Homo sapiens: one gene and its partners. The protein of the gene in region 3 interacts with the protein of the main gene of each other region in a biochemical or structural test. Each region holds a gene or a part of one and is shown on either strand. Other genes may lie near its edges. The genes, in order: HTR2B, OR3A1, MPDZ and CCDC88C.

Region 1 (7,026 bases), on a different chromosome or scaffold from region 3:
CAATCTTAACTCACCTCCAGATGTGATCACTGTTTTGTGCACTTATTTTTAGCTCTGTGTTCCTTTTGTTCTGTATCATGCCTTATGCTTTTAAGACCTGGAAGGCAAGGCTAATGTTTGTTTTGTTTTATTTCATTCTTAGCACAACTTTGCATATAATTAGAAACCAAATAAATTTTATGATGACAGTGGTTCTTTTTAAAGCCTGAAATTTATTGATTTGACTTTATTTCATTCGAATACCTTAAAATTTAACCAGAGTGCTGGATTGTTTTCATTTGTAGCTATATAAAATTATTTTCCTCATGGAATAATCTTGTCCAAATTAGGAAAATTAGATATTCTTAATACTTACATCTTAGGTTAAAGAGATGATTTGATATATGACATAAAATTCTTTATATAATATATTCTTGGCACATTTACATCTCATTCATCATCTTACTCATCATTATGTTTGATGACAACTGCCAGTTCTGCTATACATAACTAACTTGCTCTTCAGTTTTGTCACCTTCATTTTCAGTGAGGAGAAGCGTATCTAGTAGAATGATTGATGAAGACTGAATGGTTGAACTTCGGAGCCTCATTGGACTCTGGTACATGGCAGGGTTAATCCCATTTCGAATTCCATGTTTCTTGAAAAACTTAGAGTTCTCTGCCATTGGATTCCGGAAGTAGATCTTACTGGAGCGTTTTCTGAGAGTTTTTACTGACTTTGTGGCCCGGTAATTGCAGGTGATATATCGGCCAAATGCATCCCGAAATGTCTTATTGAAGAGGGTGTAGACCAAAGGATTCACTCCTGAGGAAACATAGCCTATCCACACAAATATCTCCAGGAGCATTTGGAGAGTAGTTTGGTTACAGGAATCACATAAAACTAAAGTTATATTTGTAATAAAGAAGGGACACCACATAAGCAAAAAGAGGAAAAACACAATCCCTAGGACCTTTGAGGCTCTCTGTTCGTTGGAAATGGTCTGCACTGACTTTTTCCCAATTGTGGATGTTCTTCGCATAAGTGTTTCATCACCTGAGTTGGGCAGAGCCTTGTCCTTTCGAGAACCATCCAGCATTGCCACCTTTTCCGGTGACGAGCAAGGTGTTTCATCCCTTTGGAAAACTGTAGACACAGTCAACCATGTTAGGCGTTGAGGTGGCTTGTTTTTGACTAAGTAAGCCTTCTTCTGTAAAGCATGGATAGTGAGAAAGTAGGTGACAATCATAATTGCAAGAGGTGTGAAGAAGGCAGCCAGTGAGCCAAAGAGCATGAAATCGCCAAAACGTTCCTTTGTCAGCACACAAGTGATATTGTTTGGGTTGTCCACATCAGTCTCTATCCCTTTAATAGGGACTGGAATGGCAATGCCTAAGGAAGAGGAAAACAAGATAAATTGAGTCATTTTATGACCTGTAACTCTTCGATTAGATCCTTTTGGATTGTATCCTTATAACTTTATGCTTGTTGGTGCATTATAATTCCTGGGACCCACAATGCAGGATTTGTCGAAGCATTCATCAGTGAAGATTTGACAAACAGAACCTAAGTGAGCAAATCTGTTTTTAAACGGAGATTGGTTAGTAATTTCAGATTTATAATGAAAGCTCCCCTAAAGCTATAGTATATCCATGATACAGTGGAGAATGTCTTCATTTATTCTACATTTCTCATAATCTATTTTTGTTTTTTAAGCTATCTCAGATTAAGGAAGAGAAATTCAGAAGAGAACCTGCTTTTTTCTTATTATCCAGTGTAGTTGATCTAGAGGCACTTCAGAGTACATTTATTCAATATCTTTACTCAGTTTTGTCTTTGAGGTTACAGTTTCATTTAACAGTTTTTCCTTTTGATATGTGTGAATGTCTTTTAATCCTTTCCATCTAACTTCTTAGGGAAAACTAAAGTTCATTAAAAAGTGCTACTTAAAATTTGAGTGTGTGTGAATCATGATGTTGAAAGATTATGAGTTCTTAATCTTTCTTCTTCTGTAGAAGCCTGGGCACAGTGGCGCTCATGCCTGTAATTCCAGCACTTTGGGAGGCCAAGTGGGGGTGGATTACTTGAGGTCAGGAGTTTGAGACAAGCCTGGCCAACATGGCGAAACCCCATCTCTACTAAAAATATGAAAATTAGCCAGGCATGGTGGCACGCGCCTGTACTCCCAGCTACTCAGGAGGCTAAGGTGGGAGAATCACTTGAACCCAGGAGGCCGAGGTTGCAGTGAGCCGAGATCACACCACTGCCCTCCACGCTCAGCGACAAAGTAAGACTCTGTCTCAAAAAAAAAGTTCTTTTATGACCTGGGAAAGAAATATACCTCATGTTAGTTTTCTGATCTTTAAATACCATGAAGTATTTAAATATGATGTTTCTTAGTGAAGTAGCTTATTAGAAAGACAAATAATACAGGGGTTAACCTGAATCTTTTTCCTTTGAAACAGCAGATATTTTTTAAATGTCTGAATTAATTGATCTTTAGAAACCTCTGGAATCCTTGTGTTGTTTTGTGAATCCAAGAGCACCCCTCATCTACACACCCTTTTTATGGTAGCTAAAGAGCCATTGACAAGAATATGTTCCTCAAACCCTTTCTAACAGAGGTCATTACTTTCTCTACTTTTCCTCATGTACACCACCAGAAAGAGGATTCTGTATACTTGTTCTACACCAGGGGTCATTATACTACAGTTTGAGGACCATTGGCCCACATTCTATTTTTGTAAAAGTTTTATTGGCATACTGCCACTCCCATTTGTTAGTAACATATTGTCTGTGGCTGCTTTTGTTCTACTGCAGCAGAATGGAGGAGCTGTGACAGAAACCATATACGCCCTGCAAGCCCAAAATATTTGCTGTCTTACCCTTTATAGAAAAAGTTTGCTGACCCCTGCTTTACCCTGTTACTTTCAGATCACCATTCCACTGTTTATTTCTCCCCCAAAACACTTGCCTTTTGAAGTTTATTTTATCTACTTAATACTTTCTTCTCCATCTTGCTTTTCTGTTAACCTCCATGACATTTGTTCATCTTCATCAATGGCTTCAGTACCTGCTATAGTCTTCTCTCCACTGTTCCAGTGCCAGCATTTTCTACTTCATCCCATTCGTGACCCTTCTAAGACCTTAATTTTATATTTCTTGAACTCTTTGACTCTAATTATTATTATTTGCACTAAAGCCATCTACAAGTCTACTTAGAACAATCCCTAAGATTATGAACTCTAATACTTCCCTTCCTTGTCCTGCTACCCCTCACTCCTAGAGAACTTCTGTTTCCTGTTATTTTTATCTCTAGTTCATTCATTCATCTCAGTTTTCACATTCTATTAACTCATTCTATTAATGAGACTTCATTCATCTCAGTTTTTACATTCTGTTAATATCAGGACTCACACTACTTTCCTATCCAGCTTGTTGGTCAATAACTGTAAAAGTTTTCACTGGTACTTTTTATGCCCTTACCCTGTTATATTATTATACTTTCTGTTGCCAGGTATTACCTAGAATAACTGTAAATCCAAAAGAAGAGAGTGAGCTCTCTTCAGCATTTTGTAGAATTTCAGAACTGAGCTTATTGTCATCTGCATTTTCATTTTTTCAAAGTTATTAATTTGTGATCGGTTCTACAAGACAAAGTGCAATGAAGTGAAAGAGCGTTGATTTTGGCCTTGGTGCTGAAAAGCTGTAAGAGTTCTTAAGCCAACTGATTAAAACCTCTAGGTTTCTTTTTTCTTACCTACAAAAGGAAGAAGTGGATTTCTAAATCTATATATCATGAGTCTTCCTTTTAATCTTTTTTCTCCTGCATCACTCATCACTTTGTGTTAGTGTAATTTGTTTATATGTCCGCCTTTCTTGAATGCAAAGATTCTTTTTCTTGATCATCTGTGTATTCTTAGTACCTAGCACATTATAAACACTCAATAAAAATGTGGTCAATTTATAAATTGATGGTATCCAGCCTTAATCTAGATGCCATTTATACCAGCAGGCTGCTTACCTTATTAGCTTGATCACATTTCACAGTTTCAAATATTTTAATTATTCTTAAGGATCCATTTCTTCAACTTTTTTTCCCTTTCTCTGTCCAACTCTCCCACCCCACCCCAATATACACATACCTCACACTCTCCCTTGCCCTCTCCCTCATTGCAGTGAGCTTACCAAATGTGAGTCATCTGGCATAAATGACTTTATTATAGTTTTCCTCCTCTGCACTTCAAATTTTAATTTTCACCCATTGTCTCCCATTCCCTTTCTGTAGCTGCTTTTGGGGGGCTGGTTCTGCTCTGTCGGCATCTGCCCCCTCATCTAGCCTTTTCTCACTGTTTTTAAATCTCTTCATTCTGAATAGACTTTTTCTTGACCCTGTTTTCTTCCCATACCAGAGGAGTAACACAGCTTGCTTTTACCTCCAAACTTTTTCAAAGAGATCAAGCCCTTATATCATCATTTCAGGAATATGAAGGTCAATCTCATTGTTTTGCTTTCTTGCTGTTTTTGCCCCAGTGCCCCTACTCAGATTAGGGAGGAGTAATTTAAGTATTCCAGGTCTCTTAATTTTTTGCCTCTTTGAAATATTTTTACAAGGAAGAAGAGAATCTGCTGGTCAAACCATTGTAATTTTTGCAAATCTATTTGTTTTTCTGATACTAACATATAAGAGTTTTGAATGATTTACGCATACTTCATGATAAGAAGTATAGCTTTGAGTATTATAGATGAGTACAGGGCCGTAAGACGATTTAGAAGAAAAAGGATTTCTTTTATACATAATTTCTGAACATCGGTATGTTTTCTTTGCATCTCTCTTAAAACTTTGAATTAAACATACTCAAAACACTTAAGTGCAGTGACTCACGCCTGTAATCCCAGCACTTTGGGAGGCTGGGGCAGGGGGATCGCCAGAGCTCAAGAGTTTGAGACCAGCCTGGGCAACATGACAAAACCCCACCTCTACCAAAAATACAAAAATTAGCCAGGCATGGGGGGTGTGTCTGTAGTCCCAGCTACCTGGGAGGCTGAGGTGGGAGGATCGCTTGAGCCCGGGAAGTCGAGGCAGCAGTGAACCATGATTGTGCCATTGCACTCTAGCCTGGGTGACAGAGCAAGACCCTGTCTCCAAAAAAGAAAAAACAAACCAAAAAAACCCACTGAAGCAGACACTTAACTGCCTTTAATCTGTACACATATGTACAGAAATGTTGGCTTCCAAGATGAATTTGTGTTCTTTGATACCTGCCCACAAAATGTTTGAGTTGTTATTTTTGTTTTTTCTCTTATTAATCTTTTAAAATGTGATTTAAGGTGCATTTCTTGTTATTTTAATGTAATTACAGGATTCCAAATGCTAGCTAGACCATAATTATCTGTTGGGAAATATGAAGACTGTTCTCAAACTTAACCTTTCTGCATATAGAAATCTAAGCAGAAAGAAATCTCAATAAACACTGTGCAGATGGTTCTTTCTGAGGACATGAGTTTTGTTACTTGTCACACTTTTTACCAACAGTATGTTTTAGAAGGCGTATGATAAATGCAGTGACATAAGGAGCTTATGTTAATGTATCAGTAGGCTGGCTTGACCTCTCATGCTGAGTTTCATTGCCTACCAGACCTGGTATTCTCCTAGCCAAGTGGAACCAAAGATTTTGTATACCACCCACACTCTGGCATTCTCTACATACCTATTGAAATTAACCACACCACTGTAATCTTGATGAATGCTGTAGCCCGTGAGTTATATTGATTGGCCTGGATTGGCTTTTTGATGGCTATGTAACGATCCACTGAAATGGCACAGAGATGCATGATGGATGCGGTTGAAAAGAGAACGTCAAGAAATAACCAGGCAGGACATAGAACAAGTGGGAGGGGCCACATAGCCTCTGAAAGAAACAAAAACAAGACAAACATTTTATTCTATAAAATGGCAACTTTCAGTCTACAGTTTTTCAGGTGATACATCTTTTGTCTTTTTTGTTACTCATCTGAAATTTTATAACTTTAACAACATAATGTTTAACTTCAGATAATGGAGACAACATTAAATTCAATATTTCTGTGGATGGTAACTTTTAAATACATTTTCTATTTTGCATAATAATTGTGCCTTTTTTCTAAGTCAGCAGCAGTTTAACTTTTTAGCATTATTATGACCTTTGCTCTTTTGTCGATTCCATTTGTGATCTTTTTAAAATTTATGTAGTATTGTGACTGGAACTTAACCTTGGTATTTAAATAAAATTTATTTTTAAGTAGCTGTTGTATAAAAAGAAAACATTTTACCATGTAGAGGAAACAGTATGACAAAAAGCGTATTAGAATGGGAGTCTCTGTGACACCTGGGTTTTGGGCTCACTTCTAGCAATAACTAGCAGCAAGATCCTTGTTTATAGCATACTCTAGTTTGGTGAAATAGTGGAGTGATTTTTTTGACAGAAATAGTTCTCAAATAAAGATTGCAAAAGGAATGGCTTCAGATTATCCGGAAGAAAAGTAGATTGTTTCCCCTTCTATATTTCATCATTCACTCCAAAAACTGGAGATAAAATAATTAGTACAGACTTTTGATTTGAAAAGAAAATCTCAGGGTTAGACGTAGTACTTAATTTATTTAACAAACTCTTATAAAACACTGCATACTTCATATAGTCTTAAGCACTTTAGAAATATTAACCTTAAAAAAATTTTAGGTGTGGATGTGATATTGAATATTCTGCATAGTTTTCTAATAAATTTACTTACACAGATGTTCATACATATGTGAATTTAATATATTATGCATTATATATTACACCCACCACTTAACATGTTTACAGTTTCAAAACAACTAAAATTTTAGAATTCCCCCTAGAATATTTCCATTAGAATCCAGTTTAACTCCTGTAGAGAACAGATGTCATGCATGTGAGATTATCTAAGTCTCTTTTAGGATTTGATTGTTATATGTCCACTGATAAAATGTAATCTACTTTTCTTCTGGCTATTGCAGGTATATCTGACTTTGACAGGTATAAAGT
Region 2 (7,495 bases), on a different chromosome or scaffold from region 3:
TTGGATATGGAGCCCTAGGCTCACACAGTGCATGACAGATACCAGGCACTTTGACGAGACCAACAGCAAAGCATCTGCAGATGAAATGTGGCCACTAGCCCTTTCCCAGTCGGTCAACATCCTGCAGGTGGAGGCATGTAGGATTGTACATGTGCAAGAATTTCTTTTGGGTCTCTAATTAGGAACGGAATTAGTGCAACTATATTTAAAGAATAAAGCCCAAATTGTGTTTTCATGTGATAGTACAATTTTATGATCTCACCAGCAGTGTATAAAAATTTTTGTTGCTCCAGTTTCAGCTTTCTACATATGGCTAGCCAGTTTTCCCAGCACCATTTATTAAATAGGGAATGTTTTTGTCAGGTTTGTCAAAGATCAGATGGTTGTAGATGTGTGGTATTATTTCTGAGGGCTGTGTTCTGTTCCATTGGTCTATATATCTGTTTTGGTACCAGTACCATGCTGTTTTGGTTACTGTAGCCTTGTAGTATAGTTGGAAGTCAGGTAGTGTGATGCCTCCAGCTTTGTTCTTTTGGCTTAGGAATGTCTTGGCAATGTGCGCTCTTTTTTGGTTCCATATGAACTTTAAAGTAGTTTTTTCCAATTCTGTGAAGAAAGTCATTGGTAGCTTGATGGGGATGGCATTGAATCTATAAATTACCTTGGGCAGTATGGCCATTTTCACGCTATTGATTCTTCCTATCCATGAGCATGGAATGTTCTTCCATTTGTTTGTATCCTCTTTTATTTCGTTGAGCAGTGGTTTGTAGTTCTTCTTGAAGAGGTCCTTCACGTCCCTTGTAAGTTGGATTCCTAGGTATTTTATTCTCTTTGAAGCAGTTGTGAATGGGAGTTCACTCATGATTTGGCTCTCTGCTTGTCTGTTACTGGTGTTATTTGGCTCTCTGCTTGTCTGTTATAGGAATGCTTGTGATTTTTGCACATTGATCCCTTCGTTACACCTTATACAAAAATTAATTCAAGATGGATTAAAGACTTAAATGTTAGACCTAAAACCATAAAAACCCTAGAAGAAAACCTAGACAATACCATTCAGGACATAGGCATGCACAAGGACTTCATGTCTAAAACACCAAAAGCCATGGCAACAAAAGCCAAAATTGACAAATGGGACCTAATTAAACAAGAGCTTCTGCACAGCAAAAGAAACTACCATCAGAGTGAACAGGCAACCTACAGAATGGGAGAAAATTTTTGCAATCTACTCATCTGACAAAGGGCTAATATCCAGAATCTACAAAGAACTTAAAGAAATTTACAAGAAAAAGTCAAACAACCCCATCAAAAAGTGGGTGAAGTATATGAACAGACACTTCTCAAAAGAAGACATTTATGCAGCCAACAGACACATGAAAAAATGCTCATCATCACTGGCCATCAGAGAAATGCAAATCAAAACCACAATGAGATACCATCTCACACCAGTTAGAATGGCAATCATTAAAAAGTCAGGAAACAACAGGTGCTGGAGAGGATGTGAAGAAATAGGAACACTTTTACACTGTTGGTGGGACTGTAAACTAGTTCAACCATTGTGGAAGACAGTGTGGCGATTCCTCACGGAACTAGAACCAGAAATACCATTTGACCCAGCAATCCCATTACTGGGTATATACCCAAAGGATTATAAATCATGCTGCTATAAAGACACATGCACACGTATGTTTATTGTGGCACCATTCACAATAGCAAAGACTTGGAACCAACCCAAATGTCCATCAGTGATAGACTGGATTAAGAAAATGTGGCACATATACACCATGAAATACTATGCAGCCATAAAAAAGGATGAGTTCATGTCCTTTGTAAGGACAGGGATGAAGCTGGAAACCAGCATTCTCAGCAAACTATCACAAGGACAGAAAACCAAACACCGCATGTTCTCACTCATAGGTGGGAATTGAACAATGAGAACACTTGGACACAGGAAGGGGAACATCACACACCAGGGCCTGTCGTGGGATGGGGGGAGGGGGGAGGGACAGCATTAGGAGATATACCTAATGTAAATGACGAGTTAATGGGTGCAGCACACCAACACAGCACATGTATACATATGTAACAAACCTGCACATTGTGCACATGTACCCTAGAACTTAAAGTATAATTTAAAAAAAAAAGAAAAAAATTTTTGTTGCTCAATATTTTCATCAAAACTTGATATTATGTCGTTTCTTCATTTAGGCCAATAGTACATGTAAAATAGTGTCTCTATTGTGATTTTATTTAATTAATTAATTAATTTATTTATTTTGAGACCGATTCTCACTCTGTTGCCCAGGTTGGAGTGCAGTGGTGTGATCTCAGCTCACTGCAACCTCTGCCTCCCAGGTTCAAGTGATTCTCCTGCCTCAGCCTCCCGAGTAGCTGGGATTACAGGCATGTGCCACCATGCCCAGCTAATTTTTGTATTTTTAGTAGCAATGGGGTTTTGTCATGTTGGCCAGGCTGGTCTCGAACTCCTGACCTCAGGTGATCCCCCCACCTTGGCCTCCCAAAGTGTGAGGATTACAGGCGTAAGCCACTGCTCCCAGCCTCCATTGTGATTTTAATTTACATTTGCTAGAAGAAGCTGAAAAGGCTGGCACAAAAGTCAGAGTCTTGAGGGCAGAGACAGTCATAGTGATCAGATGATGTCATAAAAGTTGTTTTTTGAAGCAGATTAAAAAAAAAAAAGAGGGAAGGGAAAGTCTTATAGAAAAGTTGTTAAAATCATGCTTTGTGGCTTGAGGTCCAGCTCTGCTACATCCTAGATAGGTAACATTAAGTAAGTTACTAAACTTCCCCGAGCCTCAAATTCCTCCTCTGCAAAGTGGAGCAAATAACAAAGCCATGTCAAAGAGTTGTCCAGAAAATTAAGATAATGCACCAAAATAAAGCAAATATTAATGATTGCCATTTTATTAGTATTAATATTTGTTGATCCCCTACCAAGTGCTTTAACTATTATTTTATTTAATTCTTAGACCAACCCTCTGTGGTTGGAAATATTATTCTGTTTTTACACATGAAGAAATGGAAGGCCAGAGTTGCTGAGCAGCTGGTCCTAAGGCACGCCGTCAGTCACTGGAAAAGCAAGTGTGAGTGTACACCACGTCAGTGTTTTTCTTACCAGGCTCTTCTGGGGAAGTGTGAAGGGCTGGAGGTTTTGCAGCAAAGGAAATGCAAGGTCTCCATCATGGTGGGCACTTCCTGTTTGAACAGGGAGTAGGACATTGAGGGAGGGCTCGGCAACCTCTCCACATTCGCCGTTCATTAACCTCATCACCAAGAGTCTCAACTTCTAAGGTCCTGGCCTAGAGAATTACAGTGGGAAGAGACGTCCCTCAGGACCCCTTGGTCCCTCCTAACTGAACTCAGCTCTTCTACCACCAATTCCAAAGTCATGATGGGGTCCCCAAGATGCAATTCCAGTGCCCCCCAGTGCCCCCGATTAACAAGGTCCTGAGGGAGAAAGCACTGCATTCCTGAGGACTCATTAGAAAGCCAAGGTTGGAGAAAGCTTCTCCCTTTTGTCTCCATTCTTGTGCCTCCTTCTCACCTCCAGGGCAAGCCTGAGAGTCAGCTCTCTCTGCTCAGAACTCTTGTTCCGAGAGGAATCTGGGAGAACAACGCTCTGTCTGGATACTTACTCTAGCCTCAGCACCACCATTAGATCCACTGTGGCTTTGTGAAGATGAATAAATTCTCTGGACTTCATTGGTGTGGTATGATAAATGGGATTATTAATACTCCCTAATTACCCCCATGAAACTAATATGAGGGGTGCAGTAAGGAGTTGGAGGGGAGGCCTCTTTGAGAAAATCAAAAGCATCACAAAGTCATAAGGCATCATTATTGGGTTCATTAAAAGCTTGGGTTGTTTATTGCTCTGTGGCTCCCTAAACCTCCGAACCTTCCTGGAAGGGCTAATTCTGAGATCCCCAGAGGCTGACACGGCAGTGGATAGATGACTGGATGATCTCATTTCTGGCTCACTCGTTTTCTCGTATATGGCCCTTCTTTGCTCTCCGGAGCACAGGCCTGCACAGTGCTTCACCCGCTTCCTTTCCCTTCAATAGAAACCTTGCTGGCCTCTGTATCCACAACGAGGTGAGGACTCTCCGGGGGCCCCCTTCTGCTCCCTAATAATAGAGGTGGCATTTGAGTTGTTACCAAGTGGTCAAATCTCTTATTTCATGGAGGACTTACTAGAGAAAGAGAGTCTTGTTCGAGATAACATATCAAGTGAGAGAAAGATCTGGGACTCTCCCATGCCAGGGCACGTTGCCAATGCCCGTCCTTCCTAGATGAGGCCTGCTTTCTCTTTTTACTGAAGTGAGTAGGAGGGCACTCAGAGAATCCAACCTTCCTGCCTGGACCCATTTCTCGGGGAGCAACGCTGAACCAGGTTCCTACAACAGAGGGTTGTATTGAGTCACGATCATCAGATGCATAAAGGACTTAGTTGGAATGTTGGAGCAGGGATCCAGGATCACTCAATAAGGGCAGCCTGAGCCTCAAGCTGGATGCCTGAGAGTGGTAATCCAGGTGAGTCTCTACAGGTGAGGTCATCACTGTGATCCTGTGTAAGACAGGCTTCTTGGAAACATAGACCAGTGTTCATCCTAGACTCTTGTTGGGTTATATGGCATCTCTGTGGGGTGTACTCTTCTAGCCTATTCTTATTTATTCATAGGGTCTACCATTCCTAATTGCCAAATTCTTTTGAGATGTTCTATCAAAAAGACATCTCCGTGAATGGATTGTTTTAACTAATGTCTTAACTATTCCCAAATGAGTCCTCAGAACCACCCCATCTATCTTGACTCTAGAAGAAACTAATAAAAAAGAAGAACAACAAAGAAACCCCACGCCATCTAGATAAAGGGAGAAGAGACACCTACAGCAGTACTTCTGTGCCTTTTCCTCACACTTGCACCTCCCTTAAATCGTATCAATCTTTTATCGTGTTGCACAAACTCCAGCTCATCCAGAAAGCCTTTCCCAACTCCTACAGCCCAATCTGATGCTCCCTTTTACTGAAATATTGTTGCTCTTACGGTCATACTTTCAAAGTTCATTTATTTATTTATTTCAGAAATATTGAACCCTACTGTATGCAAAGTGTGACACAAGGCATTAAGAATGCAAAGCTGAATTTGGCAGAAATCTGTTGGCAAGCCACAATGGAGTAGAGGAGGTGTGCTCTATAGAGAAATGTCCGTGTGAGAGGTTAACAGAGCTAAGAGCCGTAAAGTATACAATTAAAGTGCCGCAGAGTTTAGTGGACAGGAATATGAGATGGGGCAGGACCAGGAAAACCTTTACAGAGGAAGCACATTTTAATTGAGCCAAAGGATTTGAGAACTTAGAATTAGTTAGAGGATGTTCCAGATAAAGTAAATGGTTAGAACAAAGATGGGAAGATACAGAATCAAAGGGTGTAAAACCTTACAACCTGAGTTAAAGTGGATGGGAAAGGGCAAATGAGAGGTAGTTTAATTAATTACTTAATATGTAAGGGAATTGTTCTGCTCCTATAGATATGTCAATTCACAGAGTATTTATAGTGAATGATTTTTAAGTCGATGATTAGACTCAGAGGGTGATACAACAGGAATTGTTGATTTAAGAATTTTTAGGAGACACCCTATGCAACATCTCCCAAATCCGACAGCCACCACCTTATGGGGACCTAATTTGGGATTCTAGCTTTGAGGCTTCCACCAGCTCTGCCTGGTGTCCATAACTGCTGCTCTGCCTTAATTGCAGATATAAAATGAACCTGTGTAGAAAAGGGAATCTCTGCAGGGCCCAGAGGGGGCAGCTACTGGCTGAGGGAGCAGAGAGTGAAAGAAAAGAACCAGATGTTATGCCCCTTCCATAAACGTAATTTGAAAAGCTTTCCTTCTTCAATATCCCAGTACAGTCAAGTAACATTGGAAAAAATGATTCCTTGAAAGTTTAACACAATTTTTCCATTTTTTGGTGGGGATGGCGGAATGTTGGTGGTAGTGTAATGGAATGGAGTCCCTTTTTGAACAACTTTCTCTGTATCTTTTTCCCATAGTAATTAGCTTGTTTCAATTTTTTCAACTTTTCTCGAGCAAGTTTTCACATGATTTTTAATCATATTTTACCAATTATGTCCAATTTTTCAAAAAATATAGATTGGGGTAAAGTGACTTTGTAAGTACTTTTTAATCTTTTAATGTAATTGTGATTATTTTCCTTTATAAATTGTTGTTTTATACAGTTGTATTTTCTTTTTATTGATTGAATTAATAAAAAATTTAACAAGTTTATGTACCCCTTTTCCTACCCATAAAAGATTTCTTGAACTTGTTTATTAGCTCTGTATTTCTTTCTACTCAAGTTTTGCTTTTATTATGACTTTTCTTATGGTTCCTTTTCTAATGTCTTGATTGGATCATTTAATTCTTTCGTTGTTGTGGATATACTCATTTAAGGCTACGAATTCTTTTCTGAACACTGATTTAATCCATTTTTTAAAATGTGCTGCTGTCATTATCTCCTTTTTCTTCTCCTGCAGATATTCTTTAGTTTTAGTTTTCATTCTCTGTTTGGTCCAACCGTTTCTTAAGGATTTCTTTAAATATTGGATTTTATTTTTAAAATCATGTTTCTTTCCATTGGGCTGTGATCATATATCATTGTTTGTATTATTTGTTCTTTTGAAGTTTGCTGAATTTCTGGTTTTATATATGCTGTTTCTGGGCAGTAAATGTTTCATGGGCACTTTAAGGAAGGTGTACAATGTCAATTGGTTCTACCTCTTGAAAAATATTGAGGTTTTTATCGCCTTTATTCTGCCAACTTAAATTTATATGGACTGAAAGTCACTAAAATCCACTGTTACCCTGTTTCTGACTATTTCTCTTTGAACATCCTGTGCTTTTTGCTTTACGTATCAATGCTATATACTTAGGACATTCGTTTTCATACCTATTACATCTTCTTGCACCCCTTATAAAATGCTCTTCTTTTCCTCATTTACTGACTTTTTTGAATTCAAACACATTTTATATTAAGATTATGATCCCTGCTTTATTTTCGTTTACATCTGACTGGTATTCCTTTACCTTTCACCCTTTCTAATTAACTTGGTTTTGGCTGTATATTTTGGCATCAGCCTAGAGTTGTATTTTTTAGATCCAACCTGAAATTCTTTTCTTTTACTAGATGAGCTTGGCCCACTCGGCTTTATCATTGTAAGTGTGTTTGGTACTAATTTTGTTCTGTTATGTTATACTGTTTGCTTTTATTGTTTTGAAATAGCCTTTCACTGTAAGGGCTACATTTGTCTTTGTTTTGTATGCATCCTTCCTCTTATATTTTAGAAGATTTTTTTCTAGGGTTACTTTTATAACTGTAACTTTGTGTAGAGTTCCAATACTCTGTTTTTAGTCAGTGTCTACTAATTCCCTGGTATAAGCACAATGAAATTAGTATATTCCTGTTTCTTTTCCCT
Region 3 (7,026 bases):
CAAAGTGGTGGGATTACAGTCGCTTTGTTTTTTAAACCCTCAGTTATTCAGCTTGTTTGTCCTATCAAAATTAGTGTGTTTCATGAGATAATTGCTCAATTCTCCATTTCTTTTTGGTACAAGTAGTCTCCATAGAAATCATGAGGTGATAAGGTAAACACTTGGTGTTGCTGCTGCTGATTATTTTTATTAGTTTGAATGTTTTATAAAAAGCCATTTTCCACAAGGGATTGGAGGTATCCTTGCTTATAGAAATTCCAAAAGGAAGATGCCTTTCAAAAAAGTCTTGAAGAGTAAAATGTATTCCTAAAGATGATTATAGCATTTTATTTAAACATTTCCATAAAACACCCCCCATGCCCACCCCCAGTGTTCCCTAGGCACAGTAACCTTGGAAGTTGGAAGAATCAAAGCTGGTCCATTCCATTCAGAGAGGAGGCCATCTCAAAGCAGCCAGGTGGGTAGCTGTGGAGTTCATCAGGGCGATGCAATCGGCATGCCAAGAGGACACATAGATGGCCCTGACTGTGGGTCTGTGTACAAGGTCTGGTCCCCTGGCAGCGTGGGATAGTGACTGAGGTGCAGAGTTTGAGACAGAGAAGAACAAGGAATCAGAATAGCCAGGTAAACAAGGTGTGGCTGTTGAGTAGTTTGTAAGTCATTCTAAGGAAATTGATTTCAAGCATTCTTTTTTGACATGATTCATTTTCCATAATCTCAAAAGGTAACTACCTAATTGTAAAGCCTACCAAGATAACAAATTTTTTATTATTTTATTTATTTTATTTATTTATTTATTTATTTTGAGACAGAGTCTCGCTCTGTCACCCAGGCTGGAGTGCAGTGGCACAATCTCAGCTCACTGCAACCTTCGCCTCCCGGGCGAAGTAGATTCTTCTGTCTCTACTTCCCGAGTAGCTGGGACTACAGGCGTGCACCACCATGCCTGGCTAATTTTTGTATTTTTATTAGAGATGGGGTTTCGCCATGTCAGCCAGGCTGGTCTCAAACGCCTGACCTCGTGATCCACCCGCCTCAGCCTCCCAAAGTGTTGGGATTACAGGCATGAGCCACCGTACCTGGCCCCAAGATAACATATTTTAAAAATATTTTATAGCAACATCAATCAATATTCAACTGAAAAGTCCCATATAAGTGAACTATAGATACTCAGCACCATGTATAAAAATATGATGTTAAATATTTCAAGACTCTTGACAAGACCTCTTGACCTTCTCCTCAGTGTTGTCTACTGATGATGGAAACCCATTTTCATCAGTCTGTCCTTAAAGACCCCATACTAACTTTCTAAATTACTACCATGAGTTTCCTATTAGCTGGCCCTAATTCTACAGTTTTTGTTTAAGTCCTAGTCTTCCTACAACATCAGTTTAAATTTAAAGAAGATTAGTTTGAATGAGATTATGACTATCCACTAAAATTTTAGGTAGATTGGAATCAATTTCATCTACCCTTTTAGCTTCAATTTATTTATGTCACTAGACACATTCTCTGTTTAAAAGAAAAAAAATCAGTAGGAACTGTGTTTAAATTGCTCATCAAATTATCAAATGCCACTGTTGCTTAACAGGTATCTGTCTCTAGATTAAATTCTGAAATAAGTGGTATTTAGGGAGTATGTTACTTGCAAAACCTTCTGAAATAATTGTTGTATATTTGTAGGTGAGTGAAGGCAGCCTGTCATCTTTCACTTTTCCACTCTCTGGATCCAGTACATCTGAGTCACTGGAAAGTAGCTCAAAGAAGAATGCATGTAAGATTGGTTCAGTATTTTAAACATGGTTTGAATTTGGCTGTCAACACTGATTTTTTTGTCTTGTTTACCTCTGAGCTTTCTTTTCCCCCAAATCATCCCATATCCAAATATAGGTACAAAAACACGTGTTAGCAAAAAGTCTGAACAACATGAAGTTCTGCCTATGGCAGCTTTTCCCATTTGATGTTTACCCTACAAGATACACTAAACATTATAATCAGGATTCTGTAATTTTTTTTTCTTACTAAGCAGATTGGTGTTTTTGATTTTATTCCTTTTCTGTGTTTAATGTAACACCAGTAAATCAGAAGATGCCATTAAGTGAAGCCTTCTTTTTCCATGAAGATTGCAAAAATTTGAGAAAATTAATGTGATCCTCCTGTGTTTTAATTACGTGAAATCATGCTGCAGAGGGATTTTTGGCTTGGTGCATTGGTTGAGAGTTGTTCAAATTGAAGAAACTAACAATATGGCAATCTCTGTTTGCAGTATGACTAATATTCTAGAAATTTAGGCACTTAAATTTGTGAATTTTTTTAATGCATCCATGACTTTATTCCTCTCAGCCGTGCACATGTGCCTTTCTATGCAAAACACATTCTGCCCTTGACTCATTCAAAGTGGATTACATAGTTATATAATCAACACTTAAAATGAGAAGGAAGAATGGGATGGTATACACGTTTTTCCAACTGGAAAAATAAATAGTTCTGTGTAAGACAGATCTAATCATGTGTACTAGCAGCTTTGAGCACCCCCTTAAAAAAAGAAACCTAGGTTATCATTTAGTCCCATCCAGCTTTAGATATTTTAACGAACATAAAAAGTGAATGAACATAAAATAACCCTATTTTATCTTTTTTGCCTTTACAGTGGCATCTGAAATACAGGGATTAAGAACAGTCGAAATGAAAAAGGTAACTTGGGGAGAGAAAACAATATAAACCCTGGCGTTTTAAGAGACATCTTCATATGTGTTTTCTTGTTAACTTTCTTACGGTTTTAAAGTATTCATCTCAAAAAGTATGTATTCTTACATATTACATGTGAAATAACATAATGTAGTCCTTAATGAATTTCCTGATCACAGCACCTCATTTGAAAAATCGTTGTTTGCATGCTCTGTTTTGCTGAAAATAGCATAAAATTGACCCCACACAAAATAATACCATGCCTCTCACTTCTTATAAGTAAACCTTTCTCTTCAACAGATACTTATTAGTTCTGAAACAGATTCCCTTGACAGCCATGCACAAGAGACAAAGTAAAAGCAGCTGTGATTTATTGAGCTTTTACTATTGTTCTGAGCACTCTTATAGACACTTCATGTCATCATCATGTCATTTAATATTCACTGCAGCCCTCTGTGAGAGGCACTGTTGTCTCCATTTTGTAAATGAAGATCTAATGATTTATTGAGTGGAGTGGACTTATTCCAAGTTCCAGCATTTGCAAGTATGACTTCGTGGCTTTGAACACAGGACTCTGATTCCAAAAGTGTGGTCTTTTCACTTCATGAGTTTACCTGCTTTTCATCAGTTCCACAACATGATTTTCATTTAGCATGTCTTGATTTATTTTACTTCCTGAACAGATGCTTATTTTCCTAAGCCACGCTAAGCACCTGTGTCAAGTAAAGTAATGCAGTTTTCTTGCACTTCTTCATTTTCCCCCTCACACTTAGAAAATCAGAGTTGACTATAGATATCATGCCAAAGAATAAACAAAAGGTCAATGAAAAATATCACTTTGACCAAAATTTTATATCTGTTCCATGGCAGGGCCCTACTGACTCACTGGGAATCAGCATCGCTGGAGGAGTAGGCAGCCCACTTGGTGATGTGCCTATATTTATTGCAATGATGCACCCAACTGGAGTTGCAGCACAGACCCAAAAACTCAGAGTGAGTCGTACTATCAACCCTAGAAGCCCTAGCAAAATGTGCAGAAGTGTTTTTATAAACCTTTGAACCTGGCTACCTGTTGCAAGGCAGTTTTAAATATCTATATTTACTTTTAAATCATCTAATCCAACCACAGCAAGGCTTGCTTGGAATAAAAGATAAAGAATATTAAAAGAAAGGAGAAAATGCAGATTTGCAGTTAAATAGGAAGATTTATAGTTGTTTCCTAATACATATTTTTATATGTTGAAATTCTGTGGAACAAGCTAAAAGAGAACAGAAAGTATTTTCAGAACACCAGTATGAAGTGAAATTTTTATCTTATATATTTGATTGGTTTAAACGCCGATTTAACTCTGTTAAATTGAAAAGTATTACTTATTTGCATTCACTGATAATTTTGCAGAAGTTTAATATAAATATGACTTACAATGTTATAAAACTATATGCAACTTGCCTCAAAGCTGAGGGATTATCCAAATTGTGGAGCATTGCAATGGAATTTATGCCAACTGCCCAGCTCTAAAAATTACATGAATATTCCATTAACGCAACTCAGTCTCTCTAAAGCAAAATCTCTATGGTTTCATACCTCAAATAGGTCTCAGAACATAACCACATTTTAGTTTAAATAGTCTTTAGGCTGGGAATGGTTCAGCCTCGTTTGATATCCAAATTTATGGCTGACACTTAAAACCTGATTGTATACATAGCACAGGGTCAGTAAACTTCTGGAAGGACAGATACTGAATATTTTAGGCTTTGTGGGACCTGTGAGTCTCTGTTGCAACTACTCAACTCTGCGCTGTGAAAGCAGCCAAATAAGCATGGCTGTCTTCCAACCAGACTTTATTAACCAAAACAGGCAGTGGGCCAAATTTGGCCTCTGGGCCTTAGTTTGCCAACCTCCGACTTAGAGTCACATCTAATGATTATAATAGTAATGTCCAGAGAAATTTCAGTTTCCAAATGATAGTGAATTTTTTTTTCTTTTAATAGGAAGTAATGTCTCACCCAAGAGAAATGAAGAGCAGGGAAGAGTGACTTTCTCCTTCTCCCTCCCTCTCCCCTGGATATGGAACTCAACCATTATGCACTGCTTCTTTTTGTGGTTGCTGCTTTTTGGACTTCTTGGAATTAGTGGTTTCCTTGGTTATATTTCAGTGGCTGGTAGCAGTATATATGTCATGTGGAAGGTGGAGAAGGAAATGAATACTTAGGTCTCAAAGACCCACTCTCCATGGCTGCTTTAGCAGATGGCTGTTTCTTTCTCTCCCTTGCAGGTTGGGGATAGGATTGTCACCATCTGTGGCACATCCACTGAGGGCATGACTCACACCCAAGCAGTTAACCTACTGAAAAATGCATCTGGCTCCATTGAAATGCAGGTAAGATTTTTATCCCAAGCATAATTCAGAATATAGGTAGCCTGAAGACACATGAGCTTTGATGTTAAAGCAGTAAAAATGATTAAATCTTCTGCTATTATTTTATTTAATATTTCTCTTGAACATAAATGATTAAATTAAGAGTTCCAATAAAGTGCATATGAGACATATTTTGTAACATTTTACTCTGATGCATTGATTGTTTTATACTTTAAGGGGAAAAAAATCCAGGCCTTAGCAGTACATGATTATTTGCTGGAATTTTAAGTGGTGCTAGCAAGTGGCTTATATTCTAAAGATCTTTAAAAAGTAATTACATATGAGACCACATTTTAAAAACATCAAAGAACTTTGTAGAATAGAATTAGAAGAATATGTTTACTGTCAGGACAGTTAAGAGCCTCTGGACCTTGTGAAATTTCATTCTCTTTGGTTGTATTTTATGTTAACAGAAATGTTTAAATGAACAATAAAATATACATTTTAATCCAAGTGCTCTTTCTGAAGAAAAATTACTTTCCCTAGCCACAGGAACATGTGTTTTTTCTGTTTATCCTCCTCCTGTGCGCAGGTGGTTGCTGGAGGAGACGTGAGTGTGGTCACAGGTCATCAGCAGGAGCCTGCAAGTTCCAGTCTTTCTTTCACTGGGCTGACGTCAAGCAGTATATTTCAGGATGATTTAGGGTGAGTTCATACATGATGATTAGTGTATCATTTTTCACTTATGAATCAAGTCTTCCTGACAGTTGCGTTCTCTGTCCCATGTTTCTAGGAATTACGTACAGGTAAAATGATAGGATATATGAAGTGTGAATTATACATATCAGGTGCTTCTAAACTTAAATAATTGTGGCATGGATTTAGCTGATCAAAGATAAGTAGAGATAGATAACTAGCTAGATAGATATGCGTGCTACTACCCTTCCCATGGTTTCAGCTCTGATTTTGGGGCGGAGGACATTTTAGTCTTGATGTTACCACTTCATGTAATATGGAGCAAGTCAAATCTATCATTTTAAAATTTCCCGCACTGCCTATTCATCTAATATATTATCATTTGGACTGAAAAAATTCACAGTATTAAGTAACAATACTTGGATACAAAAGCATTGGAAAACAGAGGAGAAGAGAGAGGCGCATTAGAAATTTTAAATAATTTGATGCAGCTTTTCCATTGCTTATAATTGATTTTTCTCTCTGAGCTTGGGCGTACTGATGTTTATGACTTATTCTAATATAGTCCCCTGAACTTTAGCCCTCTCACTTTAAATAAACTGGAAAAAGAATGAGCTTCTCTGTACAATGAGAACATGCCATGAATATGTTAGTTTAAGGGAACTGTAAATGAGTAATAGAATTAGGGTGTTAAGTAGGATTTCATTAGATTATGTAAATTTAAAATACCAAGCACAGCATGCACTGACAATTTAAGCATCTCAAAAATACCCGTAATATACTCCTTGTCAGTAACAAAGAGAATTATGCTAGCTCTAGGTGGATGTCAGATAATTCATAACATATATGTATAGTTTTTTTTTTTTAATTTAAAACCTCTTTTTCCTTTCCTTCACCGTAGACCTCCTCAATGTAAGTCTATTACACTAGAGCGAGGACCAGATGGCTTAGGCTTCAGTATAGTTGGAGGATATGGCAGCCCTCATGGAGACTTACCCATTTATGTTAAAACAGTGTTTGCAAAGGTAAGCTTGCAAATTTTAACCACCCTCTTTTCCCCTAAACATTCATTAATAGTGGTCAGCAGCTGGCTTATTAGTTTATGGCCTGAGGTAATGCCAAATGGTTAACAGTTGATCATTTCTTTTCAAAACTCCCTACAGGAACAGGTCATTAAATATTTTTGTCCAATTTGAGGTTTCATTATATTTAAAGGAAAATAGGCTCAAATTGAAACTCCATGGAAACTCAACAATATACATAAAAATATTAATGAACTTTG
Region 4 (7,104 bases), on a different chromosome or scaffold from region 3:
TCTGGAATGATTACCTTGGCATATCACAGAGAGAACATCTAAAATTGCCCAGGGAAGGGGAGAAACCCTCCCACCCCACACCACCCCGGCCGAATTTAGCCATGGGCCAAATGAGAACAAGTGATGAGCTGGCGTTTCTCAAAGGAACGGTCCAACAGGCTTTCCTGATTTACAAGCAAGTGGGAAACGCTTCAGGAATTCCAAAGGTCAGGGAAGAAAGAGAAACAGTCCCAGTGCTTTTGTTCCCCCCTCTGCCTGGGTGTAGGAGCTGAATGAAAAGGCTGGGGATACTGCTGGTTTTTTTAATTAAACAGTCTTGGGCTTGGGTAAGGACAGGTTGAAGTTTCACCGGTCATTGCGCCAATGGAATCCAGTAATTTTCAGGGTCTAACAGAATGAGGGGAGAGTGGCCAGAACTCGAATATGCCACGAGACAGCTTCCGGAAAACTCAGTTTCAACAAAGTTATCTAAGAAGTGCTGTCAAAGCTGGCAACAGATTTATGTTTTTCAATCTAATCAGACACTGAAGACTGGTAAGATTGGTAGTGACTTTTTTTCCTACACCCACAGCTGTGAACTTTAAAAAAAAAAAAGCAAAAACCATTAAACAGCATGACATCAAATGACTTATTAAAATAAAAGGAGGCCGGGCACCACAGTGGCTCATGCCTGTAATCCCAGCACTTTGGGAGGCCAAGGCAGGCGGATCACCTGAGGTCGGGAGTTCGAGACCAGCCTAACATGGAGAAACCCCATTTCTACTAAAAATACAAAATTAGCCGGGCGTGGTGGCGCATGCCTGCAATCCCAGCTACTCGGGAGGCTGAGGTAGGATAATCGCTTGAACCCGGGAGGCGGAGGTTGTGGTGAGCTGAGATCACGCCATTGCACTCCAGCCTGGGCAACAAGAGCGAAACTCCGTCTCCAAAAAAAAAAAAAGCAAGGTTCTTGAATTATTTTTTTCTAAACAGGCTGTTTAAGGCAATCTATATAAGCCACTTTCTGGATATGCCAAAGCAAACTGCTCCTCTGCCTTTGTGAGCCACAAACGAAGCTGATCTCTCATTAGCTAATAGATTTATGCTCCAGTATGACAACTTGCTCAGTCGTAGGTGAATAGGTGCGCACACGAGGCTGATCCACAGAGAACATTAGGATGTTTTATTTTGCTTCAAGTGCCTGTGAATCATCCCGACACTCAGTTCCAATGTTCCCTGCAGTTTGAGTTAAAAACAGAATGCAAAGGTAGAAGCCAACACCTACGTTGTGGCAAGCTGTCAATCAGGCCGTGCAGAGCTCAGCAACAGGAAAGGATGTGGTCAGATGTACTCGCTGGCAAGAGTAACTTCTACTAAGACCCTGTTCAGGCTGCATGCTTCCAAACAAACAGCACCATGGGACCCTCCTAACACTGTGACTTTAAACTCAGTCCATACAGTAGGACTTAATGAATTGCACTTGCTTTGGGGCAACTGAAAAAGGAAGATGAAATGTAAAGGAGCTCAGAAACACAGACACCCTCATCTAAAATGAAACTTTACAGTAACCCTCGGATGCCTGGGCCCACCCCGACACTTCCTGTAACCAGACACTCTCCGTTACAGTTCCTTGCCCTCCAAAAGGGGACTTTTTCATTTCATTGCTCAAACCACAATTAAGTCCTTGAGTCTGAAGTCAATTGCACTATCTACACCACGTAAATGACAGTCATTCAATTCCAAATTTCCTTCATCAAACCAACTGCCAGACCCACTGTCCTGGAGTTCTTCAAACACCTACGAATGTCCAACAGGCACGTTAATACTGAGATACCAGCGTCTCCACCTTCAGAGAACTACCCCCCACCCCACACACACCCCGCCATGCAACCTTCCACTCCATTTCTACTCTCAAACTTTCTAACGCACCATTCTTTCCTTCCTCCGAGAAGAAGGTAACTTACATTTGCAGCATAATTTGGTTCAAAAAGATGCCGTCCACTAAATCCATGTACATAGTCAGGTTGTCCTGGCTGCCGCTTCCAAACGGGCCAAAAGTTTTCACCTGCGGGGAGGGGGACGAGGAGAGAAAGACAGGAAGTCACCCCGTGCGCACAAACGGTCCAAAGCTCTCCCAGGCAGAGACTGGACGGGTCAGTGTGAGCAGAAGGGGGTCACCCACGCCCACACCACCCTTCAGCAGGCACCAAGCCCGGCCTTCTCCTAGGGCCTGTCTCCCCTCCCCGCGCGGGGCAACAGACACGAGACAGGAGGAAAAACTTCCTCGCCACTTTTCTCCCGCGTTCCAGAGCGGAAGAAATAAAAATAAAAAGGACTTTTCAATAAATGTCTCACGTCTCAAATCCATTGTAAATCAGTGCGCCCACCCCAGTCTGTTCGCTTTCCCATTCGGCGCCCCCCATTCCCCACCCGTCACCGCCATCCACCGGCTGGTCTCAGGGATTCAGAAAAACTACATGAGATATTTGGTTGGGAAGAATGGGGTCCTTTTCGGGAGTGGCTAAACCCCAGGGACAGGAGTGACCACTGGGACCCGGTCCGCCCCGAGGCAGCCAGCCTAGAGCCCCAGCGGGAACAGGTGTACCCGCCCGGCTCCTGGCCCGGCCGAAAGCGCGGCGGGGTCCCGCGCCGGACGCACAACGGGGGCGCCGGCTCCAGAGTTACAAAGCTCCGGACTCCAGGACGCGGCCCCAACCCCGGCCGGGAGCCACTTGCTGCGTCCCTCGCGCCCCGGAGCCACCCGGGGCCCCGGCCGTGTCGGGTCTGCGGCGTCCCGTCGCCGGGCTAGAGAGAAGCCGGTGCACCAACAAAGGGGCGGGGAGCCAGGCGCACTCACCCAGGTCACCAGCGGGCTCTGCAGGAAGAGCTCCAGGAGCTCCGAGACTGTCACGTCCATGCTGAGGCTGCGCCCGCCGGCTCCGCGCCCCCCGCCCCGCGTCCCCGTTCCCCCGCGCCGCGGCACAAAACGGCTCCGCAGCGAGCAGCGGGCGCGGGGCTGCGGCGGCTCGCGCCCGGGAGACAAAGGCGGGGCGCGCGAGCCCACGTTCCGCGGCTTCGGCGGCCCCGCGCCCCGCCCGGGTCTGGGGGAAGGGGAGGGCCAGCCGCTCGGGGAGGAACAATACGGGCGGCCCCGCCCCTCGGCGGCCCTGGGCGACCGGCGCGCCGCCTCGCGGTGCCAGCCCGGGAGCCCGGGAGCCCGGGCGCGGGACCAGGCTACGCGGGGCGCTGGGAGGGGACTGGTGGCCCGAGGCGGGTGGGTCGCGGGGCCCGGCTCCCCGCCCGTGGGACCGCGCGCCCTCGCCGAGCGCAGCCTCCCCGCGTGTGGGGCCCCAGCACGTGGCGCATCCCTGCGCGCGTGCGCGTGCAGCCGGGGCCCGAGCGCCACGTGCGAGCTGGGGTGCGCGGGCACTGGTGCGTGCCGGGAGCGGGGACGCCCTGCCCTCCGAGGTTGCTCTGCCCTCCGAGGTCGCCCGCAGCTGCCGCCCGCTCTGGGCTTGGGGACCTCGGCCCTGCGCCTTTCCGCACTCCTGGCAGGTGCAGCCCCAGGTACAGTCAAGAGGCCCCGCAAACCCCCGCTCCTCACGCTTGTGCGCGGCGCGATAAACGCGCCCCGACCCTGGGGCTGGGCTGGAGGGCAAAGAAGAAACTTTATGTTGAGTTTAGGCCTTAGGGGCGCGGCCCCTCGCGCCCTACCGTGCCCCACCGTGCCATGTTCCGGGCTGCCTGCCTTCTAAAAGTTCCTGCAGGAAGCAGGTGATGTGGCCTCCCCGACCCGGGCCCGCCCCCACCACTTTGCCGGAGGCGAGCTAAATTCCAGCCGGGGTTCCTAGCAGCAGCTTAGTGGCAGGCGACAGGAAAAAGGGCAAAGGCCCCAACTGGCTGGAAGGCAAGCCCGGGGGCAGGACCTCCTTGCGGGACGGCACGAGGCAGGAGCCGGCTCCAGGCTGGTCTCGGCCTGGTAATAATTTCACACCACCAGCCGGTCATTGTTCAAAGCACTGTAGACCATTTTACTAATTTAACCCTAACGATCGCCGCATTTCGCAGCTGGGCCAACTGGTACAGGGTTGACCCGAAGGGCCCTGCGTGGCGCTTGGCAAGTATACAGCAGGCACTAAATGGCTGCCGACAGGCTCGGTGGTAATTTTGAAAGTTGGCTCTGTGCAGCGTTGGGGCTGCGGCATCTGCTGGTGGCGAGTGGTATTACAGCCCAGCGCTGGCGGACCCCGTTGGGCTGGGGAGGGTTGTGAGATTATGGCCTGAGAGCCAAGGGGGTCGGTTAGGGGTCCCTAGAGACTGTGGAAGGCGGGGTAGCATAAAACACAATGGGGGACTGCGGAGGAACTAAAATTTCGAGACTACATGGTTTTGTTGTGCACCAGAAGTTCATTAGAGAAGTTCCTTAATTGCTTCTCCGCCCGCCGCGATGGCACTCGACCCCGCGGATTAATTTAACAACTCTGATGGTTGCTCTGTGAAATTTAAAGAACAGTGGTTTAAGCAAAGACCACAAGAAAGAAGAATTGAGATCAAAGAGGAGTGTGTGCCATCGCTGTGGAGGAGTTTCAGTTGTGAATCATGAAATGTCCTGTAAACCATTTCAAGGAGTTTGATTTTTATACCAAAAACAATGGGAAGACACTACAGGTTTTTGGAGCAGCAGCTCAGACGTGTCGAAAAAGATGTTTTGATCCCTAAAATAATGAGAGAAAAGGCCAGAGAGAGGTCTTCTGACAAGTTCAAGATTTTACCAAATGTTGCAAGAACTCTGGAATCCTTATGGTAGTAAAATGCTGGAAAGAAAATTCTGCATTGAAAGAATGTCTTAACAGCTCACTATAATGACCCAGCCTTTTATGAATAATGCAAAGTGGAAAACCTGAAGGAAAAGGAAGAATTCAGAAAAACTGGAATTTCTACAAAGAAAAGTCTACAGAAGCTGCCCACAAGTGTGTAGACAAATATTCAGATGACATTCAGGATCTCTAATACTCATGGAAGTCGTTTATAGAATAAACCTTAAATAATGGACTCAAGAATGTGTGTTTGCTAATTATGTGTGTATCCTAATTATGGAAATATTAATTTTATCTGAAATAAAAATCTTTTTTTCTTTTCTCTTTTTTTTTTTTTTTTTTTTTTTTGAGACAACAGAGTCTCACTCTGTTGCCCAGGCTGGAGTGCAGTGGCGTGCTCTCTGCTCACTGCAACTCCGCCTCCCGGGTTCGCGCCATTCTCCTGCCTCAGCCTCCAGAGTAGTTGGGACTGCAGGCGCCCACCACCACGCCCGGCTAATTTTTTGTATTTTTTACTAGAGACGGGGTTTCACCGTGTTAGCCAGGATGGTCTCTATCTCCTGACCTCGTGATCCGCCTGCCTCGGCCTCCCAAAGTGCTGGGATTACAGGCGTGAGCCACCGCGCCCGGCTAAAAATCTTTTATTTAAAAAAGTTCCTTAATTGCTCATAATGTAAGTTAGTTCAAAAATAGGTATGATGTGTACACACACCGCTCTTCGCTCGGAAGCCTCTCTTCTGAAAAGTAAGGGATGCAGATGCGGCCAAAGTTGTTTTTCCAATTTTTTTGGAAAGACAAGGATGAGGAATCTTTAAAGTTATTTATTGAGGCCGGGTGCAGTGCCTCACACCTGTAATCCCAGCACTTTGGGAGGCCTAAGTAGGTGGATCACTTCAGCCCAAGAGTTCAAGACCAGCCTGGCCAAAAAAAATAGAAAAATTAGCTGGGTGTGGTGGTGCACACCTGTGATCCCAGCTACTCTGGAGGCTGAGAATCACTCGAACCCGGGAGGGGAAGGTTGCAGTGAGCTGCTATTGCACCATTGCACTCCAGCCTGGGTGACAGAGCAAGACTCTGTCTCAAAAAAAAAAATTTATTGAGTAAGCTTATTCTTTCACACTAAGAAATACAGTGGACAAATGCCTTCTGACAGTTGTGAGACTTTTCCCATCCTGGTGAGGGAATTTTCCCCTGGGGACATTGACAAGGCCCTGGGCCACAGCCATGTCAGGAATGTTTGCTTTGGGGTCAGTTAGCTGCTGTGTTGGTTCATAATCATTGATGTATCTGCTACCATGCCTTGGCTTGACTACGCCACCAGGATTAAAAGGATCTAACTCAGCTCCCTTGTTCCCTAGGAGGCAATGGGGCAGGCAAACTGGATGGTGCCCCAGGTGTAGCAAGCTTGGAAGGCTTCAAAGGACGGGACAAGTTTGGCCTGGACAAGTTTCCTCCTAGAAGTCACTTAATCTGCAAAATCAAGATAAGACCATTTTCCCCATGTGACTTGACAAGACAATATTAAAGCTCAAGGTGATGCATGTAAAAAGATTGTGGAAGCCATAAAGCTTTATAGAGATACATAATCACTGTCTCTTCCTCATCTCCTGCCCCATTCTGCTACCCTTGCTTTAATAAAAATTGTTTCCCCGAAGTCTCCGTCGGGCTGGGGCATAAGCTTCAAGGAGCAAATGCACAGACCCTCCACTGACCACTACACAGAGAGTCCCAATGCCCCTCCTCCATCCTTCCAGAACACCCTTGGCTTTCACTCCATCCATCTGAGCCTTAACTCTTTATTTTTAAGTTTTTCCTTGTTAATCTCTGGATATAAATGTATCTATTGCTTAATACATTGCTTCCTGGGTAGAAGCAGTATTTTGTGTTCTTCTGATAAAGGAATTTTCTACCCTCTCAGAAAATACTGACTCAGCAGTGTTAGCTAATGGCATTTCTACTTCACCTGATAGGAGCAGGAGCTTAAATTGTTACTACAACTTGGGGTGGGGAGAGGGAATGGCTATTTTTTTTTTTTTTCGAGACTGAGTCTTGCTCTGTCACCCAGGCTGGAGTGCAGTGGCGCAATCTTGGCTCACTGCAACCTCTGTCTCCCAGGGGTCAAGCTATCTCAGCTCACTACCATGCCGAGCTAATTTTTGTATTTTTAGTAGAGACAAGGTTTCGCCATGTTGGCCAGGCGGTTCTCAAACTCCTGACCTCAGGTGATCTGCCCGCCTCGGCCTCACAAAGTGCTGAGATTACAGGTGTGAGCCACTATGGCTGGCCACAAAATACTATATTCTATGAT

The links.
Region 1: the proteins of MPDZ (region 3) and HTR2B form a complex in vitro, tested with the Homo sapiens proteins (one study listed by IntAct).
Region 2: the proteins of MPDZ (region 3) and OR3A1 interact in a test that uses a peptide from one of them, tested with the Homo sapiens proteins (one study listed by IntAct).
Region 4: the proteins of MPDZ (region 3) and CCDC88C form a complex in vitro, tested with the Homo sapiens proteins (one study listed by BioGRID).

Annotation. Positions count from the first base shown.
Region 1 is NC_000002.12:231,108,038-231,115,063, forward strand, and holds the end of HTR2B (5-hydroxytryptamine receptor 2B), read right to left. Parts: intron 5,893-7,026; coding exon 5,692-5,892; intron 1,373-5,691; coding exon 480-1,372; 3' UTR 193-479; downstream 1-192. UniProt on the Homo sapiens protein: G-protein coupled receptor for 5-hydroxytryptamine (serotonin). Also functions as a receptor for various ergot alkaloid derivatives and psychoactive substances.
Region 2 is NC_000017.11:3,295,339-3,302,833, reverse strand, and holds the start of OR3A1 (olfactory receptor 3A1), read left to right. Parts: upstream 1-4,473; 5' UTR 4,474-4,551; intron 4,552-7,495. UniProt on the Homo sapiens protein: Odorant receptor.
Region 3 is NC_000009.12:13,108,679-13,115,704, reverse strand, and holds part of MPDZ (multiple PDZ domain protein), read left to right. Parts: intron 1-370; coding exon 371-457; intron 458-1,683; coding exon 1,684-1,774; intron 1,775-2,650; coding exon 2,651-2,694; intron 2,695-3,558; coding exon 3,559-3,681; intron 3,682-4,964; coding exon 4,965-5,069; intron 5,070-5,640; coding exon 5,641-5,753; intron 5,754-6,645; coding exon 6,646-6,769; intron 6,770-7,026. UniProt on the Homo sapiens protein: Member of the NMDAR signaling complex that may play a role in control of AMPAR potentiation and synaptic plasticity in excitatory synapses. Promotes clustering of HT2RC at the cell surface.
Region 4 is NC_000014.9:91,414,795-91,421,898, forward strand, and holds the start of CCDC88C (protein Daple), read right to left. Parts: upstream 3,027-7,104; 5' UTR 2,897-3,026; coding exon 2,837-2,896; intron 2,809-2,836; exon of another isoform or gene 2,585-2,808; intron 2,045-2,584; coding exon 1,944-2,044; intron 1-1,943. UniProt on the Homo sapiens protein: Required for activation of guanine nucleotide-binding proteins (G-proteins) during non-canonical Wnt signaling. Binds to ligand-activated Wnt receptor FZD7, displacing DVL1 from the FZD7 receptor and leading to inhibition of canonical Wnt signaling.